2 separate regions of the Homo sapiens genome follow, and region 1 is linked to region 2. Evidence: fine-mapped expression QTL. A gene starts in region 2. The other region holds a variant in brackets. All regions are shown on one strand. Distances are between the middles of the regions.

Evidence for each region.
Region 1: its variant is fine-mapped to the expression of SRMS in tibial nerve (GTEx, PIP above 0.99). The same link has a PIP of 0.9 or more in cerebellum.

What each region holds. Positions count from the first base shown.
Region 1 is chr20:63,517,267-63,528,847 of GRCh38, reverse strand. It overlaps PPDPF (pancreatic progenitor cell differentiation and proliferation factor), which reads right to left and starts at 8,083. Exons shown (of 4, transcript NM_024299.4): 1 at 7,954-8,083; 2 at 7,485-7,564; 3 at 7,259-7,336; 4 at 6,642-7,180. The coding sequence starts at 7,539. The coding sequence ends at 6,969. It overlaps LOC102723814 (a long non-coding RNA gene), which reads left to right and starts at 8,175. Exons shown (of 2, transcript XR_430332.4): 1 at 8,175-10,376; 2 at 10,963-11,581. It overlaps PTK6 (protein tyrosine kinase 6), which reads left to right. Exons shown (of 8, transcript NM_005975.4): 8 at 1-847. RefSeq lists silencers at 7,631-7,830, 7,941-8,490, 8,551-8,800 and enhancers at 8,073-8,949, 8,950-9,826, 9,827-10,704. The variant CT/T (reference allele first, on the strand shown) is at 6,683.
Region 2 is chr20:63,543,759-63,553,336 of GRCh38, reverse strand. SRMS (src-related kinase lacking C-terminal regulatory tyrosine and N-terminal myristylation sites) reads left to right here and starts at 5,588. Exons shown (of 8, transcript NM_080823.4): 1 at 5,588-6,229; 2 at 8,989-9,110. The coding sequence starts at 5,874. It also overlaps a transcript of FNDC11 not described here. RefSeq lists enhancers at 277-366, 5,874-6,515, 8,688-9,241.

The sequences.
Region 1 (11,581 bases), 25 kb after region 2:
GGTTCCGGGCTGGGGGGGCTGCCTCCTTTGCACCTGATTTTGAAGGTGTCTCTTTCATCCATGGTTAAGTCATAAAAAGCTTATTGGTTTTGGTTTTGACTCACCTGAAAGTTTTTTTGGTTTAAAAGAAGAATAGGCGGGGCACGGTGGCTCATGCCTGTAATCCCAGCACTTTGGGAGGCTGAGGCAGGTGGATCACGAGGTCAGGAGATCGACACCATCCTGGCTAACACGGTGAAACCCCGTCTCTACTAAAAAATACAAAAAATTAGCTGGGTGTGGTGGTGGGGGTGGGCGCCTGTAGTCCCAGCTACGTGGGAGGCTGAGGCAGCAGACTGGTGTGAACCCGGGAGGTGGAGCTTGCAGTGAGCCGAGATCGCGCCACTGCACTCCAGCCTGGGCGACAGAGCGAGACTCCATCTCAAAAAAAAAAAAAAAAAAAAGAAAGAAAGAAAAATAATTTTGGGAGTTTCTGGAAAGGTACTAGGATTTCTCAAAAGGATTTGTCTTCTGCCTTGTGAAAGACAGATGTCAGACTAATCAGGCTTATCCGATGTGCTACATGAGATGGAAAGCGTGTGAAATAGTAAGTCACACTAAGTCTTCTGGAGGTTCTATTTACGGGTTTGGTTTTGATATGAATGTTGCAGAAACTCTATAAAATTCCTAGAAATCTGATACGTTATCCTATGATATATATCCTATCTCACATGCTATTCCTAGAAATCTGGTGCAATGTTATCAGTCATAATTTTGGTTATTACATTAAAATGCTGCATGCCACAGAAATAACCAAGTTTCCTTGCCAACCGTGTCACGAATATAATAAACTCTCATCAGATCCTGAGCCATGGCTATCTTAAGTCTTCGGTCATTCACAGTTATTATCTTACTTTGATTTTTTCTGAAAGCTTTGCAATCAGCTAGTCCCAAATTGTTTATTCTTCAAAGAGATTCCTGGGAAGGATTCTGACAGGTGCTCTGGAGCACAGGTTTCTGGTTCAGGTCATAGCCTTGGATTGGGTGCAAATTTCCAGAACTCGAAGGAGGGACCTGGCAGGTCCATGAAAGTTCTGTCCCAGGATCAACCAGAACAAGAATTAATGACATGGGAATGAATGAACTGACGAGGATGTTTACTGTTTAATGACTTTTGTCTGAAGCATTACGGTTCTTTAATATTTTGTTTTCCAGATGTAAGAAAACGTTTTTTGTTTCTGTTTTTGTTTTTGAAGACAGGGTCTTGCTCTGTCACCCAGGCTGGAGCGCAGTGGCGTGACCACAGCTCATTGCAGCCTTGAATTCCCAGGCTCAAGTGATCCTCCCGCCTCAGCCTCCTGAATAGTTGGGACTACAGGAATGCACCACCACACCTGGCTAATTTTAAATTTTTTTTTTTTTAGGAGATTCAGGGTCTTGCTATGTTGCCCAGGCTGGTCTCGAACTCCTGGGCTCTAGCAATCCTCCTGCCTCGGGACTACAGGCCTGAGCTGCTGCGCCCAGCCTGGGCACGAAAGCCGTCTGTACGAGAGTTGCTGGGGAAATTTCTCTGAAGTCTGTATCAAGTGGGGCAGCTTCAGCTTACAGGGCTTTGGGAAAAGAGCAGTTTTAATTTTCAGTGACTCCATGAGGAATGGTGGAAGAAAAAATTGGAAAGAGTGGTTTGGTGAGCTGTAGGCAAATATTGGAGGAAACTGAAGTTCAGGACCCGGTCCGGACCACAGGTGGGCGACAAAACCTCCAGACAGCAAACCGGGCTAGAGTCTAATAGTGGGGGCACGAGTTTTATTTTGAAACATAATTTTTCTCTCTACAGTCAACAAATTTCTTTTTCTTTTTTTTTTTTTGAGATAGAGTTTCGCTCTTATTGCACAGGCTGGAGTGCAATGGCTTGATCTCGGCTCACGGCAACCTCTGCCTCCCGGGTTCAAGTGATTCTCCTGCCTCAGCCTCCCGAGTAGCTGGGATTACAGGCATGCGCCACCACGCCCAGCTAATTTTTGTACTTTCAGTAGAGATGGGGTTTCTTCACGTTGGTCAGGTTGGTCTCGAACTCCCGACCTCAGGTGATCCACCCACCTCGGCCTCCCAAAATGCTGGGATTACAGGTGTGAGCCACCGCACCCAGCCAACAAATTTCCTTCTTCCTTTTTTTTTTTGAGATGGAGTCTCGCTCTGTCGCCCAGGCTGGAGTGCAATGGCGCAATATTGGCTCACTGCAACCTCTGCCTCTCGGGTTCAAGTGATTCTCCTGCCTCAGCCTCCCAAGTCTCTGGGATTACAGGTGCCTGCTACCACGCCCGACTAATTTTTGTATTTTTAGTAGAGATAGGGTTTTGCCATGTTGGCCAGGCTGGTCTCGAACTCCTGACCTCAGGTGATCCGCCCACCTCGGCTTCCCAAAGTGCTGGGATTACAGGTGTGAGCCACCGTGACCGGCTGCAAATTAACGCATTTCTATCAAAGATAATAAAAGTAGGATTGTTTTCAAATTAACACATTTCTATCAAAGATAATAAAAGATTGATTTGATTGCAGAGTAAGTTTGGCCTCATTAAACCTGGTGTGGTTATTTATGTAAGTGGAACAAGAATAGTGATTAACCACATAGGTTCTTCCTCATTTTTGTTTTCCAACAGGGCCTCACCCTGTCACCGAGGCTGGAGTGCAGTGGTACCATCATGGTTCACTGCTGCCTTGACCTCCTGGGCTCAAGCCACCTTCCAGCCCCACCCTCCAGAGTAGCTGGGACGACAGGCATGTGACACCACACCTGGCTAATTTATTTGTATTTTAGTAGAGAGGGAGCCCCACTATGTTGCCCAGGCCAGTCCTGAACTCCTGGGCTCAAGCAAACCTCCCATCTCAGGCTCCCAAAGTGCTGGGATTATAGGTACACCTGGACACGTGGGCTCTTTTAAAATTTGCTTTACTGGAACTTTTTTTTTTTTTTTTCCTGAGACGGAGTCTTGCTCTGTCGCCCAGGCTGGAGTGCAGTGGCGCGATCTCGGCTCACTGCAAGCTCCGTCTCCCGGGTTCATGCCATTCTTCTGCCTCAGCCTCCCGCATAGCTGGGACTACAGGCACCCGCCACCATGCCCGGCTAATTTTTTTATTTTTAGTAGAGACGGGGTTTCACCGTGTTAGCCAGGATGGTCTCGATCCCCTGACCTCGTGATCTGCCCACCGTGGCCTCCCAAAGTGCTGGGATTACAGGTGTGAGCCACTGTGCCTGGCCTACTGGAACTTTTTATAAGGAATCTGAGATTGGGCTTTTAAAAGCCTCTTGAGGCTAGGAAGCCATCGCAAAGACTTGCCATCAGACTTTGCCTGCAATAAGTACAGATTTAGGGGAATTCCTCTCTTCTTGAGGTCCCTAAGGTATCTTAAGATTCTGGGACCTGCCAGGAATTGACATTCTTTACTCATCTGTAAGGGAACCACGTATGTGAGGTACCAGGCCAGCTTTTTTCCAAGGGGCTTTATTGGACCATGCAGTCAACCCTAACTCCTTTAGTCGTATCTGAAAATAGGACATTCCAGTCAAAGCCTTGGTAATATAACCAATGTTTTCAATTGTGCCCTATTACAAGAACAGATTCTCATTGAACTTATGCAAACCCACTAACAGTTTCTGAATTCTGGGATTAGGGAGGAAGAAAAAGATAAATATTTCACCGTTGAGGCCATTCTAACCTCCCTGCCTTTCTTCCCTGAAGCAGGCCATAAAACCCAGGAAGGCCACTCCCAGACCCTCTCCCTGCAGACCCTCACGTGGTGTCCCGCCCCCTAACCAGAGGAAAGGGATGTCAGAGTCAAGTCGGGCCTTGATCACACCCTTCCATCCTCCGCTCACTCCTGCTCCGCTGTGAAATAGACCATTTCTTTGGTCTTTGTTTTGAAGGGGCCCACATCACATGGAACTCGCATTAAATGTTTGTATGCTTTTTCTTTTTTTTTTTTAAGACAGAGTCTTGCTCTCTGACGCCCAGGCTGGAGTGCAGTAGCGCAATCTTGGCTCACCGCAGCCTCCGCCTCCCGGGCTCAGGGGATCCTCCCATCTCAGCCTCCCCAGTAGCTGGGACTCCAGGCATGCACCGCCACGTCTGGCTAATTTTTTTGTTTTTGATAGAAACAGGGTTTTGCCGTGTTGGTTGCCATGTTGACCAAGCTGGACTTGAAGTCCCGGCTTCTAGTGATCCACCTGCCTCAGCCTCCCAAAGTGTTGGGAATATAGGCGTGAGCCACTGCGCCCAGTTTAATCTGTCTTTTGTTCAAGGGTCTGTTGGATACAGTGAGTTCTAGATTTCTCTTAGAGGACTCAGCATGTATGTTCAGTTCTTTGTTCTCCATTTAACTCGTGCATAGTTTCAGTAAACAACCTTTTCCACCAGTTTTAATCAATAGTTCACATCTGTTCCCCTGGTCACCTGCTCCGTCCTGACTCATCCTGGTACCTGTTTTTTTTTTTTTTTTTTTTTGAGATGGAGTCTCGCTCTGTTGCCCAGGCTGGAGTGCAGTGGTGCGATGTCCGCTCACTGCAAGCTCCGCCCCCCGGGTTCCTGCCATTCTCCTGCCTCAGCCTCCCGAGTAGCTGGGACTACAGGTGCCCGCCACCACGCCTGGCTAATTTTTTTTGTATTTTTAGTAGAGACGGGGTTTCACCACGTTTGCCAAGATGGTCTCGATCTCCTGACCTCATGATCCACCCGCCTCGGCCTCCCAAAGTGCTGGGATTACAGGCGTGAGCCATCGCACCCGGCCCCTGGTCACCTGCTCTGACCTAAGTCATCTTTAGCTACCTGTTCCTGTCCTTCCTGCCAAACTACTCACCCCACCACTCTGGGTCACACCCCTGCTCTCTTTAAAATAGTCAATCAGAATTACCTTAGAGTGTGCAGTCCAACCCCACCCAACAGGGGAATGACACAGCCGTAGAGGCTACCTGTGTCAGGAATAAGAACCCCTTCCCCTCCCTTGTCCAGGTGCGCTCTCACCATTGCTCCATCCGCGAGTCGCACCCTTCTATAGAAGTAAAAATTGCCTTGCTGAGAAAATTAATGTTTGAGTGCTATTTCTTTGTGGCACCGAGGAAGCATTTTGTTTCTAACAGGTCTCAGCCATGAAGCTTGTGATGGGTGAGGAAAAGATATGACTTCTCCCCCTACAGAGAATCTGATGAGGGTGCAGCTCCCAGGAACAGGCCATGGACACCCCCAGGGTTGTGAGGTCCTCCAGTCAAGGGGCCCCCTGACCCGAGGCAGGGGACGATGCCGCGGGCAGCCTGTGGCTCGGCTGCTCCCTACTCCCAGCTGCCCCTTCCAACAAGACACCAGCTCCCGGGCAGTGCCCCTCCCCCGCTGACTCCAAAAGCCAGGACAGCTTCTTTCCAAGCAGGGTGGACCCACCCTTGGTCCTGACCCCAAGCCCTCCAGCTCAGCCAAGGGCGGAGCCCCCCCAGGCCATGTGTGGTGGGGACCTGAGCGTGGCTGGGCTCTCCCTTCAACACCAACTCCTGCTACCCTCACAGCTGTGTGTACATGGAGGAGGGTCTCTGTGGGCTTCATCTGGACACTGCAAAAGGCTGCAGGGGGCTCAACTGCCATTAGGAGCAGCCTCCCACTCCTGGGTCCATCGGAGGCTCCCCCACCCAGCCTCAGCACTGACCACCGGCTTGGATGGCTGGGTGAGGCTGCCTCCACCCTGTGGACAGGACAAAGGCTCAGCCATCAGAGGCCACAAGCCAGATGCCTTCCCACCAGCTTCCCACCAACTAGTACAGCTATTTATAGTGCAGTGGAACAGGGTACCAGGCAGGGAGCACCCACTGATCCCCACCCCTCCCCAGAGTCCCTCCCCCACCACTGAACCCCACCCTTTCCCACCCCACGGAGGCCCCTCCTCTCACCATGTCCCTGGCCACACATCAAGTCTCCAGCTATCTCACTGACTCCCACCTGCTCACTAAGCTGCCTCTCAACAGAACTGAGTCAATCCCTGTAGGCTCCTGGCAGAGGTGTGGGGACACCACCCACCTTGGTTATGAAGGAGTCTACTAAGCTCACAGCCCATGCACTCCTGTGTGTGGACCCCCATCCCTGCCAGCCTGCAGCACTCCCGGACTCCAACACTCCATGCCTATACCAGGCCAGAATGATGCAGCCACCCTCACTTTAAGCTGGGCTGCCTGTGGCAGGAAGACCCCTCCACGGTGCCTGCAGCCCCTACCCCTCAGCCTGTCTTGGGGCAACACCCCTATGGGAGGCCCTTGGGAGACACCTACCAGCAGGAACCAGGTCCCTCCAGAGTGAGGGCTTCCCAGCTCACAGCCAGAGGCTACTCCCCGCCCCGCAGGCCCTCGGGTAAGGGGCCTGAATCCCTCAGAGGACCAGCCCTCCCTGCTCCCTTTCCCCCCGCTAAAGGTGGCACGGGGGCCCACCTCAGTGGCTGCCCTGGGTCCTGCTTGTCCAGCTCCAGGACTGCCTGCTGTCCAAGGCTCTCCAGAAGCAGCAGTGAACCCCACCCTTATCAGCCCCAGCAACAGCCTCACAGCGTGAGGAGGCCCAGAAAGGCCTGGGAGCAGGGCCAGCCCCCACAAGGCAGTGAGGTCGGGAGGGATTCAGCCATTTCTCACACTCAAATGGAACCTCGGGCCACACAGCTCAGGCACACACCATCGGGG[CT/T]ACTGGCTGCTTGGAGTTTATTTTCCGCTTGGTGCCAGGTGCACAGTTCCAGGTGTCAGGAAAGCTAGCGAGTGCTGGGGCCGGGCGGTAGAGAGCGGGGCTCTCACTGGTTTTTGGTGTCTGCTGTGTTGATGCGAAGGTCTGCTTGCTGCAGCCGCCTAGTTTACAGGGTGGGGGGTGGGAGGTGGGGAGGGGGGCGAGGGATGCGGAGTGGGGAGAGGGGCGGGGAGGGGCTCTGGTGGACTAGCGCCTCCGCAGGCCTGGGGCTGGTGGTAACCGCTCAGGTCAGGACGGGGGCCCAGCGCTGGCTGTGCTGGACTGACCGCCGGGCTGCTTCCTCGGGGCGTCCCGAGCCAGGCCACAGGCGGTCATGCTGCTGGAGGCCTGGGGAGGTTCCGAGTGCTCTGCGGACTCCAACACCGTGGCCATGAACGGGAGGGTGGACTTCCCGAAAAAGAAGCTGGCCCACCAATGACCCGGGTCAGCCTTGGGGAGACCTGAGAGAAGCGAAGTGGGGTCTTGATGCTGCCAGCTCCTGGAGGAGCGGGGGGAGAAAGGGGCGATCCTGCACTCACCTGGGGGGTGGGGAATGGCTTCCCCGGGGCACTCGGTACTGCTGCAGGAGCTGTTGCTGGAAGTGGAACCCAGGCGGCCTGGAGAGGAGAGGTCCCGTCAGCAACGCGGGGCGCGGAGCCCCCCAGCCCACCGGCCTTCAGGCCGAGCGCTGGTTCCGCAGCCTGCACGGGGCCGGCACTGGCGCCAGCAGAGCATCCGCGTGGATGGGGGGCAGGGGCTACTCACGCCGGTAGTAGTCGTGGGTGGCCACGAGCGAGCCGCTGGAGGGGATGGCCGCCATGCTTTAGCTTGCTGGCTGGTGGGATCTGCGCATGGGGGTGGAGGAGCCCCTCGGGTCAGCGGCCTTCCGTCATGAAGGGCGCTCCCCAGCGGGTGGAGCCGCCGCGCTGGGTTATTTACCGAGGCGGGGCTCCCCAGCTCCCGGCACCGCCTTCGCCGCGCGGGGCGCGGGCGGCTCCAACCAGCCCAAACCGGCCGAGCGGGTGGAACAAAGGCGCTTTGTGCGCGGGGCCCCGGCCCAGACGTCGGGAACCTGGTGGGCGCCGTCCCAACCCGCCCGACCCGAGAGGAGCCCGCCGGGGACCCCGAGCCCAGCGCTCGCCAGGCGGAGAGGAGAGGAGCCCCCGGCCCAGCCCCGCCCCTCGCCCCCCGCCCCTCGGGCCTGCTCGTCCCACCCGCGCGCGGCGCCCCTCACCTGGGCGGCGACCCCTCGCGGGCCTCGGCGCACGATCACGGGTGGCGGGGACGGGGGCGCTAGGCCACGGAGCCCATTTGCAGAGAAGACCGCGGGAAGCCGCGCCACGACAGAGAGGCGCGCGCGGGGTGCGCACGCGCGGACGCGCCCACTTATATGCGCGGGGGCCGCGGCGCGTCACGGAGGGCGGGGCGCACAGGCTCCTCCCCGGGCCCCACCCGGCCCCGCCCCTTTCCTGGCCCCGGCGAGGCCGCGCCCCCAGCTTCCACCTCGGTGCGACTCTCGCCGTCTGGCTTGGGCTGAGCCCAGCCCTGCGGCGTTCGTCTTGGGGCGGCCCGGCCGGTCCTGGGTCTGCAGGGGTTAAAAGGCCCCGCGCCCGGGTCCGGGAGCCCAGCCCCCGCCCCTCTCCCGGGCCCAGGCCCCCGTCTCGGACGCGTCTCGGAGCCCCGCCTGGTCCAGCCCGCCCGTCCTCTTCAGCCCTTGTGGAGGCGACGGGGGCGCCGGGCGGGCCAAAAAGTGCTACGTGCGCGGAGCCCTCCGGCCCGGCCTCCAGGGACTTCGCAGCCAGAGGAACCTGGATCTCTCCCGAGTCCCCCTCACAGCTCTGGCAGCTCCGGAACCTGCACCCCGGTTGCCCAGCCCCAGGACGCGCCTGCTGCCCGCAGGGGGCGGTGAAAGGGTGGGCGGATGGCGGGGCAGTGGGAGGCGGGGCCCAGTCGGAGAGCGGGGCGGATTTGGGCGGGTGAGGTGAGTCTCCAGTCGCCGGAGGCAGAGGCTGGGCCCCACTGCTCGGAGACCCCATGTTTGGGGAGCCCAGAGCGTTCCCGGCAGGGCCCTGGGGCCCGGGGGACGGCCCGCCATGCCAATCAGGAGGGGGCGCGTTTTCCCTTCCCAGGCAGAAAGGCGTCCTCCCTCTCCTCCTCCCCCCAGCGCAGAATCCTCCCCACACCTCCCTCGGCCCCGCAGGGGAAATCGGCCTGCCCCTACGGAAATCCCGTTTCTTTATACACCCGGTCCTGGCTGGGCGGTGTCTTCCCCGTGGAAGAGAGGGTCCGGGAGGTCCGTGGGGCGGAACAGTCCGAGGGCTTCGGGAGTCAGCCCGGGTGGATTTGTTTCGTGGCTCTCGTTGCTGGCTGGGACGGCCGTGTGCCCGTGTTGTTCCGGAGATCGAGGCCAACGGATGCCGTACTCTGTCCTCGCCGGGTGCTCAGTGAGGACCCACAGCTGGGCAGGGACCCTGGGAGGCCCCTGAGCAAGACTTGGAGGGACGCCCTTGTGCCCCCTGAGCACGTGGGGAAGGCGCTGTCCTGGGCCCTGCACCGCTCTGTGTGTTCATTGCACGAGTGTGGTAAGCACCTACTATGTGCACATGGCCGAGCCAAGCGCAGGGAACGGTAAACCAAGGGAGAACGGCCTTCCCGTGGGGAGCAGTGCAGAGGCTGGCGGGGGCGGGTGGTGGGGAGAGCTCAGGTTTCAGCTGAGGTCTAAGGACGGAGGGCAGGGAACCGCCTGAGCCCCACCTGGGAGGGGGAGCTCGGTGCCGGAGAGCAGTGCCAGGACCTGCGATGGGAGAGGTGTGCAGCCCCGAGGGGTCACTGATGAGGCAGACGGGTCAGTTGGGTTGACACTCAGAGGGTCCTCAGGGGCAGACGCTGAGACGGGGTTTGGGGTTTGGGGTGCAGAGTGAGTACTGGTGATCAGCACCTGGGAAGGGGTGGGGAGGGTGCAGGGCCGGGCAGGGACTGTAGGGGCGGCCTGCGTTGGGCTTGGCTGGCACAGCCTTTGTGGCTTGCTTGGACCCATATGCAGCCGCCCAGGGACGGGAGACCCTGGTGAGGTGTCTGTGGTCCAGGCCCACCCTGAAGGAGCCGTGGGGCCGACTGCCGACCACGCCTGACAGCACGGCCTTCCAGGTCACCCGCTTCCCTCTAGGCTGGCCTGACCCAGCTCACCTCATTCTCAACCTCACCAGTCAACACCGGTCAACATCAGTCACAGAGCGTCTGAAAGGAGGAATTTTCATTTTCCTTTAAAGTGAAAAGGTAAAAACTGCATTTACTAAACCAGGCCGGTGGGGGCTCTGTGAGCCCCTCTGCACAGGAAGCCTCAGAGACGCTGCATGGTGTTCCCGGGGCATCCTGGCCAAGGTGGGAGAACGCAGCCTCCGTGAGGACCCGCGGGATGCCCTCGGGGGCCGCCTCCTGGTTCTCGTCTCCTCTGAAGTGCAGACGACGCTGGCCCACATCCTTGTCGGGCAGAGGGGCTGCCGACTGGCCCCTGGCCATGGCTCTTGCTGGGAGCCGTGTGGCCTGGGCTTGGACCCACATCCACCTCTTGCTGGCTGCCTGCTCTTGCCAGTGGCTGAGCCTGGCTTCTCCCATGACAGTGGCCGCAGACAGAGGGGACCCGTGCCACCAGGCAAGGTGAGCTCAGGGAACGCTAGCTCTCCTCTCCCTTGGCTCTGAGGGGTTCGGCGGTGCCCTTGGTGTGTCTGGGGGCTTTTGGGAAGTCCCAGGTCTGGGCTCTGGGTCAGGAAGCAGGAGCGAGGAGAGACACTGCACCCGAGCCTCCCCGGCTGTAGGAAATGGGGGCAGAAAAGCTAAGCGGACGGAAGATGCATTGTGCGCAAGCTATAGCAGGCCGGTTCAGGCCCGGTTGCTGCTAGGATGTGATCATTGGCAGGGATGAGATTGACGGGGACGGTCAGCTGGAGAGGACAGGGCACAGCTGGACGAGGGCGGGGACGGCCACAGGCTTCCCACAGGGCGGGAGGGAAAGGCTTCCAGTCCCACTTGTAAGGGCTGCCTGCCACCCTGTAGCCACTGTCTCCTCCCTTGTGGACGGGACGATGGTGGCACCTTGTTATGGTTGGGTTAACATACATATGTTAAGAATGCGTTAACCCCAGCGTGTGGGGAGGACTAGATGGGAGAGGCCCCTAGTGCGGAGGCTCACAGCCTTGCTCGGCCCCTGGGAGCTGTCGCCACCTGCACTGTGCTCCTCCCACAGGTGTCTGGGGGCGAGGTGAGAGTTCTGCCAAAGCCGGAGCCAGGGTTGGACCCCCGGAGCTCGTTGGTCGGCCCCTGGAGGGAGAGTGGTGTGTTCACACCACGGCCCTGGTGGCCCAGCTCTGCCCATCTTCATCCCAGGTGGCAGCTGCTGCCCAGCTCTCTGGCCAGTGCCTCTTAGATGGTGTCACCACCTGCAGAAGAAAACAGAAGTGCTGACTAATATTTGATGAAGGCCTGCTATGCCGGCGGCACCTGATGTGGCAGGTGAAGTCCGGGGGGCAGCAGCCAAGGCTGCCTGTTCCTCAGTGTCCCTGCGCGTGAGACGGGCATAGCTAACTCCTGTGGCCACCTTGAGGGTAAGATGCTTCCTGCAGGTGCTTGGACCAGTATCTGGCACGGGGCAGGTGCTCAGCGAAAGTTCCTTATTAATCCCTGTACCTTTCACTGTTGGAAGTAACTCAGGACATTGGCTTGGTGGTTACACAAGCACTGTGGGAGAAGGTGGTGTATCTGTTCACCCTGGGTCCCAGTGGCTGAGGCAGAGCCAGCCATGCAGGAGGCAGGCGTCCAGTATGTATATTGGATGGAAGGTTGAATTGCATAATAAAATATATTAA
Region 2 (9,578 bases):
GCTCCTTCCACCTGGGGCTGCCCAAGCTCAGGCACCGACCTGACTCTGGATAAATGGGGTCTCCATAGCTCCAGGGAGCCCCGCAGGGGAGCTCTGAGGCCATCTGGTCCCGTCTGTATCTGTTCAGTTGGGCTCAGGGCCTCTGGGATCCCCCCGTTCCCCCACAGCACACCCCAGCTAGCTGGGGGTCTCCTGGGGTCACAATCTTAGACACCCCAAGGTGCCCCTCCTTCACCTTCAGGAAGATGCTGGAGGAAGACACCCTTTCCATCCTCCTCATCTCCACCCCCACGGAGGTCAGTGCTGGGGCCTCTTCCAGGATGGGCGTCTTTGAGCCCCTACCAGGCTGTTCTGTAACTTGAGCCTCCCCCCTCCTCCCGGTGACCCCACCCTGGAAGAGCTTTCCCTTGGTGCATGGAGGCCCCAGGGGTTAGGCCTGGCAGGAAGTGGGTGGATGTGGGTGGTTTTTTTTTTGAGATAGCGTCTTGCTCTGTCACCCATGCGGCAGTCTTCACCCCCGGGGCTCAAGTGATCCTCCCACCTGGGTCTTTCTGATCCTTCCGGATTACAGGTGTGAGCCTTGCACCCAGTCCTGTTGGGTGCTGTTTCTGCCCTGCCCTCCCTGCCTGGGCTGGAACTCAATAAATGCCAGCTATTGTTATTGTTATTTAGGGCTCCAGGGGACAAAGCCGGGGTTGTTTGGAGAAGGGGGTGCTGTCTGACGCGGAGGGTTGGGAAGCAGTAGGAGTTAGACCCCTTACCCCCGGCCCTGCAGCCCACTGACGGAGAAGCGGGGTGGGGGCAGAGCAGCCTCCCCTTCTCTTTTGGGGCCAGGCAGGTCCTGGATGTCTCCCCTCTCCTGGGCTCCACCCTACCCCCTTTCTTTCAATTTCTGATTTCTAATCTAATTTTTTAAAGTTAAACTTTTGGCCAGGCTCGGTGGCGCAGGCCCATAACCTCAGCACTTTGAGAGGCCAAGGTGAGAGGATCCCTTGAGGCCAGAAGTTTGAGACCAGCCTCGGCAACACAGGGAGACCCCTGTCTCTACAAATAATTTGAAAAATTAGCTGGGTGTGGTGGTGTGCACCTGTGGTCTCAGCTACTTGGAAAGCTGAGGCCGGAGGATCACCTGAGCCTGGGAGGATGAGGCTGCAGTGAGCCAAGATGGTGCCACTGCACTCCAGCCTGGGTGACAGAGGGAGACCCTGTGTCTCTAAAAAGAATAATAATGGCTGGGCGCAGTGGCTCACGCCTATAATCCCAGCACTTCGGGAGGCTGAGGCAAGCAGATCACCTGAGGTCAGGAGTTCAAGACCAGCCTGGCCAACATAGTAAGACCCAGTCTCTACTAACAATACAAAAATTAGCTGGACGTGATCGAGACCATGGTGAAACCCCGTCTCTACTAAAAATACAAAACACTAGCTGGGAGTGGTGGCAGGCGCCTGTAGTCCCAGCTACTCGGGAGACTGAGGCAGGAGAATGGCGTGAACCTGGAAGGTGGAGCTTGCAGTGAGCCGAGATCACGCCACTGCACTCCAGCCTGGGCGACAGAGCGAGACTCTGTCTCAAAAAAAAAAAAAAAATTAGCTGGACGTGGTGGTGGGCGCCTGTAGTCCCAGCTACTCAGGAGGCTGAGGCAGGAGAATCGCTTGAACCCAGGAGGTGGAGGTTGCAGTGAGCCGAGATTGTGCCACTGCACTCCAGCCTGGGTGCAATAAGACAGAGGCCTGTCTCGAAAATAATAATAATAATAATAAAGTTAAACTTTTACTTTTAAGATAAGTATAGATTCATCTGCAGTTGTAAGAAGTAACACAGAGGTCCCGTTACCCTCTATCCAGCATCCCCAGTGGTAGCATCTTGCAGGACTGCAGTGCAGAATCACGCCAGGACCTTGACGTCGATACAGACGCAAGGCAGTGCCACCCCCACGGGACCCTGACATGTTCTTTACAGCCACGCTGCTCCCTCCCACCTCTCCCTAGCCCTGCAACCACTCATCTCTCCGGCTCTGTCTGGTCATTTCAAGAATGTCCTATCAGTGCAGGCTTTCAGTATGCAGCCTTGGGACTGGCTTCTTGCGCTCAGCATAGTCCCCTCTGTGCAGGGTCAACAGTCACTCCTGTTCACTGCTGGGCACCAGGGGCCAGTTTGTGCTCAGTCTTGCTCAACCCTGTTTGTGGCCACCAGGGCACGGGCAGTGAACACTTTGGATCTGTTGTCCCTGGTGGGGACAAGCTCTCTTCCCTGGGCCCTGAGGATGGTGAAGCCTGGGGGTAGTGGGGCCAGTCTTGGGGGAGAGAATGCACGCTGACCACTGAGACCCTCAGAGCTGTGCCCTCCAGACACATAAACCCGGATGGGGGGTGGCCTGATGTGGCAGAGCTCCTGCCACAAGCCTCCATCTGAACACCAGGAAGGGCCCTGCACCCCATCCCCCTGGTCTGTGTCCTCACTGCCATTGTAAGCTCAGTGCTCTTACAGATGGGGAAACTGAGGCACAGGGAGGTTCAGCACTGTATGCCCAAGGTCATGTGGACAGTGAGTCTGACAGCAGGATTCCAGCCCTGGTCATTTTTATTTTTTTGAGATGGAGTCTTGCTCAGCCGCCCAGGCTGGAGTACGGTGGCGCGACGATCTCAGCTCACTGCAACCACTGTCTCCCAGATTCAAGTGATTCTCCCGTCTCAGCCTCCCGAGTAGCTGGGATTACAGGTGCCCGCCATCATGCCTGACTAACTTTTGTATTTTAGTGGAGACGGGGTTTCACCATGTTGCCCAGGCTGGTCTTGAACTCCTGACCTCAGGTGATGCACCCGCCTTGGCCTCCCAAAGTGCTGGGATTACTGGTGTCAGCCACCGTGCCTAGCCTTTTCTTTTTTTAAAAAAATAGAGATGGGGGTCTCACTATGTTGCCCAGGCTGGTCTTGAACCCTTGGGCTTAAGCGATCCTCCTGCTTGGCCTCCCCAGATGCTGGTATTACAGGAGTGAGCCGCCTCACCCGGCCAAGCCCCAGACTCCTGACCCCGTCCAGACTGATCCTGTACCCAGGCCCCTTTCCTCACTCCCCTCTGTGCCACCCACCCGGTTAGGGCTGAGGGAGGAGGTGAGGTCATGTGGGGGGGGCACAGCAGGCAGGGAAGGGGCTGCTGACACCGACACCTGGCAGGGGCCCTATGCTGGGCTGTGTTGCGCCTGGTGGGTGAGGTGAGGAAGGGGTGGACGGGCGGGCACAACTTGGAGGGCAGCGGGACAGGGCAGCTGGGCATGCGGGGCCGGGGATTCTGAGGACCACCGGGGAGGAGCTGGATAAAGCCGGCCTCGGCTGCCTGCCGACCACACTCACCCTGGCATGTGTGCGGTGCAAGGGCAGCAGGTGCAAGGAGGGGGAAGATGGGGCAGACGTGGGGAGCTGATCTGTGGGCAGGTGGGGCGGTGGGGGTGAGACACGCCGGGGCAGAGGCCCAATGGGGCCCTAACCCTGATGGCCAGGCCTGCCTCTGGTTCCAGCTGGGCATGGAATGTGCTGAGTCCTGTGCCATGATCCCGTGGCTCTAAGGGGCAGGGAGTGTCTGGGAGGAATCTGCATTCAGTGCCCTGAACATCTGACCCTGGTGTGGTGGGCACAGGAGCTTTCCATGGCCTGAGGAGGCCTCCCTGGGGCTCTGCGGCCTTGGCGTTCTAGCGGGGAAGAGTCACGTCCTAGGGAGGATTTGGGAGAGCTGGTAGCCACACCTGTAGTCCCAGCACTTTGGGAGGCAGGAGGATCGCTTGAGGCCAAGAGTTCAAAACCGGCCTGGGCAACATAGTGAGAGCCCATCTCTACAAATAATAAAAAATTTATCTGGGCATGGTGGCGCACACCTGTAGTCCGGCAGGAGGACGGCTTGAGCCCAGGAGATCGAGGCTGCCACTGCACTCCAGCCTGGGCGACAGAGTGAGACCCTGTTTCCAAAAAAAAAGTAAAGAAAAGAAATGGTGGGCAAAAGCCTCACCTGCACGTGAGGAGACGGCGGTGGGTGTGGGGAGGAGACGGCGGCGGGGGGAGTGGAGGGGAGGAGACGGCGGGGGTGGGTTGTGGGGAGGAGACGGCGTCGGGGGCGGGAGGAGACGGGCAGCGGGTGGGGGGAGGAGAGGGCGGCGGGGGCGGGAGGAGAGGGCGGCGGGGGGAAGCGCGGGAGGAGAAGGCGCTGGGGCCCCTCGAAGGCCACCCCCAATGTAGTATTTACAATTCTCCACATTTCTCAACACCCCCCACCACCCCCAGCAGGGCACCTCTCTGGTGCAGAGCCTGCCCTGAGCCTGGCGATGTCCAGTCTCCCAGGGCCCCTGCTGGCTCCAGGCTATCAGCCCGGACACAGCTTGGCTGCTGGGGTGCCCTGAGAGCCAGGCCACGGGTGTCACTGCCACCCCACAATGCACACACCAGTCCCCAGACGTGAGGTTTCTGAGAAGCCCATCTGTGACTCCAGGGCAGGCAGGTGCGAGGGGCTTGTCATTGGCTGGACACTGGTCACGCCTATTGGAGGGATGCATTCAGCCACACGCATGAAGTGGGGGCATGGATGCGTGTGAGATGTGGGAAAGGGGCGTGAGGCTCCCTGAAGGCCACCCAGGTGCGGAAGGGGCTGCTGGGGGAGGCCGGCAGGAGGAGTGAGAGACTGCAGATGGCCTCACCCCACCCCCGTGCCTCAGGACCCAGAGGGGAGGTGGGAGGAGTGAGAGACTGCAGATGGCCCCCACCCCACCCCACTCAGGACCCGGAGGGGATGTGGGAGGAGAGAGAGACTGCAGATGGCCACCACCCCATCCTCCTGCCTCAGGACCCTGTACCGTGCTGCTGGGTTTTGCTGGGATTTGCTCCCCCAGTCCTGCCCCGATCTGGGGACCTACCTGAGCGGGCAGAGTTTGCTTCAGCATGCGGGGGCTTGGCGCTGTCCAGGGAGAGGGTGGGAGGTCCCCAGCCAGGGACTCACCCGCCGCCCCTTCTCCGTGTGCTCATCCCCCTGAACTGGGGCCAGGCGTCCGCAGCCTCCACTTCCCCGCAGTGGCCTTTGGGTATGGCCTGGGCATTGACTGACTCAGAAGCCGGTCATCGGGCAGCATGGGGCATCTGGGTGCCTGGCCTGCGGCCGAGCTCCCTGCAATCAGCATCTCGTTTTACTGCATGAAAGCCGGGGTGCTGAGAGCCCCCTCACTCGCCTGTCCTCAGAATTTACTGCAGAGGCCGGAGGCTCGGCACCTGGTGCAGGGTTAATGATGTTAAAATATCTGGCCAACACTTAAATAAGCAGGCAATTTTTCACCTGAGTGCAGCTCAGGCTTGGCAACCACTGCAGGTGCTGAACAGCAGCGCTTCTCCGTGGAACCCCCACTTCTCCGTGGGCACGGGCGGCTGTTGGACTGTGGTGCCCTTGGGCATGGGCCAGGCCTGACTGGGCAGAGCCATTCCGCCTGCCTGGGCCTTGCAGAGGGCGGGAGAGAGGCTGGCCCTGCCCACCCCGCCCTCCTCGGGCCCCTCCTGGAGCCCGCCCCCGCCCCAGCCCAAGCTGCCCTCTGCCGTCGGGTTGGGGAGGGGACGGTGCACTCCAGACGCCAAGGAGGTCGAGGACAGGAGGTGCTGTCGGTGTGCCTGAGGCAGGGGGTCCGCCCTGCGCCCCACCCAGCCCCAACGCCAGCCCGGACGCCGGTGGGAACCGTGTGCCTCCTGGATCCAGGGGACCTCTGAGTGACCGCAGGGCCGGGGTCCCCTGTCACCCCACGGCCAGGGCAGGGAGCGCTGGACACCGGGTCCCACCGGCCCTGCCAGTTCCTCTTCCGGGCTCGCGGGCTCCCATGGCCCTCGGGCCCAGCGTGGTGACCCCGGGGGATGGAGCCGTTCCTCAGGAGGCGGCTGGCCTTCCTGTCCTTCTTCTGGGACAAGATCTGGCCGGCGGGCGGCGAGCCGGACCATGGCACCCCCGGGTCCCTGGACCCCAACACTGACCCAGTGCCCACGCTCCCCGCCGAGCCTTGCAGCCCCTTCCCTCAGCTCTTCCTTGCGCTCTATGACTTCACGGCGCGGTGTGGCGGGGAGCTGAGTGTCCGCCGCGGGGACAGGCTCTGTGCCCTCGAAGAGGGGGGCGGCTACATCTTCGCACGCAGGCTTTCGGGCCAGCCCAGCGCCGGGCTCGTGCCCATCACCCACGTGGCCAAGGCTTCTCCTGAGACGCTCTCAGACCAACCGTGAGTACCTCGGCCTCGGAGTCAGAGCCTGCCTCGCCCCCAGCTGGGGAGTCCAGAACAACGGCAGGATTTTGAGTTGGAAATCGCATGTCCGTGGCTATCTGTTCATTCATTCGTTCATCCACGCATTCATTCAGGGACAGCTGATGGGCCCCGGGCCGGCAGGTGTGGTAGGAAAACAGCAGTGTCCGCTGTGGGCTGCCGAGAGGGAGAGGAGGCTCCGGCAGGCGTGGTCAGGTCCTGTGGGGGGGAGCATCAGCTGCACCAGCTGGACACCCAGCAGGCGGTTCCTCCAGGACCCTGCCTGGCTGGCCAGGCCCTCCCGCCCTCACACAGGGAGTCCAGTGTTCATGGATCGGTCACTGCTTGGAGGGCAGGGGCTGGGGGCTGGGAGGCACCAGATGACAGGAGCTCCAGGAGCTCTGGGTGACGGCAGGTGAGCAGGGGCTGGGGGCTGGGGGCTGAGACAGGGGCCCATGCTCCAGGAACTCTGGGTGAGGGCAGGTGAGCAGGGGCTGGGGGCTGAGACGGGCCCACGCTCCAGGAGCTCTGGGTGAAGGCAGGTGAGCAGGGGCTGGGACTGGGGGCTGAGACAGGGGCCCACGCTCCAGGAGCTCTGGGTGAGGGCAGGTGAGCAGGGGTTGCAGAGGCGCCTAGTCCAGATGCCCAGTGCGGCTGCTCTGAGCGGCTGCCTTGGTCTGGCATCCAGCTGGGCAAGGCCTGAGCCCTGGAGACCTTCGGGGTCAGCCTTGCTCAGGGCCACTTCCAGCCTCCTGGGGGCCCTTTGGCACTCACACATCGTCCTGGGGGTTGCATGGGCGGGTGAAGCCGGAGTCACAGGAAGGGGCCTTCTGAGGGGCCCCAGGCCCTCACCCCACACCTGCCCCGCTTGTCCTGAGCAGTGGTTGGGGGGCAAGCAGCCTTTGTGATGGGAAGGGGCTCACAGTCACCCCAGGTGTGGAGGACAGACCCCTTCAGCAGTTCCTGGAGGGCAGGGCTCGTGGTGGAGCAGGGCGGTCCATAGGCAAAGCTAATGACTATTTGCCTAGGCTGGAGATTAAAAGACTAACCACACTCAGGTGTCATTAGCTCCAGACACCTGGCCCCACGCCCCAGGGAGAGACCTCAGACACATCCTCTGCATCTCAGGATCCCACAGGGGCTCACCTCTGACCCCCAAGCCCTGATGTGGGCTTCAGAGGAGGCTGGCGATGTTTTGGGGAAACACCTGTGTCTCATCCCCACACCCCACGGTGCTGGGAGGGACCTGAGTCCCTTTACACGTGAGAGGGTTGCGTCTCCCTGCCAGCAGACCCCAGAAGGCAGGGGCCCTGGCTGCAGGAGGAGCTCCATGGACAGAGCGTCCATGGAGTCAGTGCCTCAGGCCGCTGCCTCTCTGTCCCTGGTCCCACACCTCTTCCTGTCTCCATCTTCATTCCCTTCAACTTAAGCCCAGCCCCACGGCCCTGGTCATGTCAGTTTCTATTCCTGCTGCCCCCATTGCCCCCTAGGTCACCGGGGCAGGGGTGCCAGACTGTGTCCTCCGTCTTGCCCAGTCCCAGTCTGCCAGGATGGCATGGCCGTGCCCCAGCCCCGAATCTTGTGTTGACTCTGAGGCCCACCTCGGGTCCTCTCCTAGTCCCGCTTCCCAGGTGGTTTCAGCCCCACCCTGACACCGGCTCACTCTGCTTCTTCCTCCTGGTGCTTACGGGGTGTGCCCTGGGGCAGGGGAGTGGCAGGCATCCCTCTCCGGGTCCCAGGAAGCTCCAGGAAGTGGGAGGCTCCAGGGTGGGAAGCTGAGTCAGGTGTGGAGTCCCCGCCTTGGACTTCAGCAGCAGAGTTATGCAGACGGGGTGGGGCTGGGAGCATTTCTGTCTTCCTTCCAAGGATGCCTCCGGCTCCCAGGAATGAGTAGATGTGACCTGGTGGGCGGCCCACCTGGACAGGGGAGACCCAGCCGGCCCCTCTCCCGACACCCGGTGTGGGCTCCTCGTGTGTGGGCATCTGAGGAGTGGGCACCTGGGAGCTCCCTGCCACCCTGCCACCGTGTTCAGAGAGGTCTCACCTGCACCTGGCTTTTCCGAGGGGGTGTCTGTGCGAACAGACGCCAGTGGGCTTAGGGCCGTCCTGTACTGGGCACAACTCTCCAGCATGGGATGCAGGATGCTTTGAACGTTCGCACAGCAACCCCCCTGCAGCCGCCCACTGGCTGCCCCTCCTGACCTCCTGCACAGCCTGGCTTAGGCTGCCTCCTCAGGACACAGCTTGCATGGGCCCCCTCCACTAACCAACTGCCTGAGGCAGGTGGGCCGTGCCCAGCCAGGTGATGCCCATGGCCCTGTACAGCCACGACAGCCCAGCAGTGCTTCCGGGCAGCTCACCAGGCCGTCAGCTCCATGTCTGTGCAGGGGCTCAGCGAAGCCGAGTTTGGAGGCCTATGGCCCATGGCCAGGGCTGACTGTTAACCTGTGGCTGGGGCTGGCGGTCACTATGAACAGGGAACTGGAGGTCACGCCCAGCAGGGCTAACGGAGAGCCCACGGCCAACGTGAGGATGCTCAGGGCTGAGCAGGAGGATGAGGCCGGCACTGGGGGCTGAGGCAGTGCAGACCTTGAGCTGGGACTCAAAGTCCACGGGGTGGACCTTCTCCCTGAGGCGGTGGGACAGCCGGGCTCAGCCCTGCCGGCAACACGGAGGAGAGCATGTGGGGCCACTGGCTGAGGGGCCTGCAAGGTGACTGCCGCACCTGCTGTTTGCAGCTGGTACTTTAGCGGGGTCAGTCGGACCCAGGCACAGCAGCTGCTCCTCTCCCCACCCAACGAACCAGGGGCCTTCCTCATCCGGCCCAGCGAGAGCAGCCTCGGGGGCTACTCACTGTCAGGTACCTGGGGCGGCCCCTCCTGCCTCTGTCCCCCACCAGGTCAGTGGCCCTTGACCTTGGGGTGGTTGGTCTCTAGGCAGTGCTGGCTCCTGATTCACACCCGGCGCCACTGAGGGCCCAACAGCAGATATGCTGGTCACCTCCTGCACTTGCTAACTCACCCATTTATTCATTCATTCAGTCATTCACCCACTCATTCATTCAGTCACTCATTCACTTGTTCATTCATTCCTCACTAATTCACTCATTCATTCATTCATCCATTCATCTCATTCACTCGTTCATTCCTCACTCACTAATTCACTCATTCATTCATCCATTCATCCACTCATTCACTCGTTCATTCGTCACTCACTAATTCACTCATTTATTCACTGATTTGTTCACTAGCTTATTCTTTCACTCATTTGCTTATTCGTTCATTCATTCATTCACTTTTCCTTCTTTCCTTCCTTATTCCTTCATTCA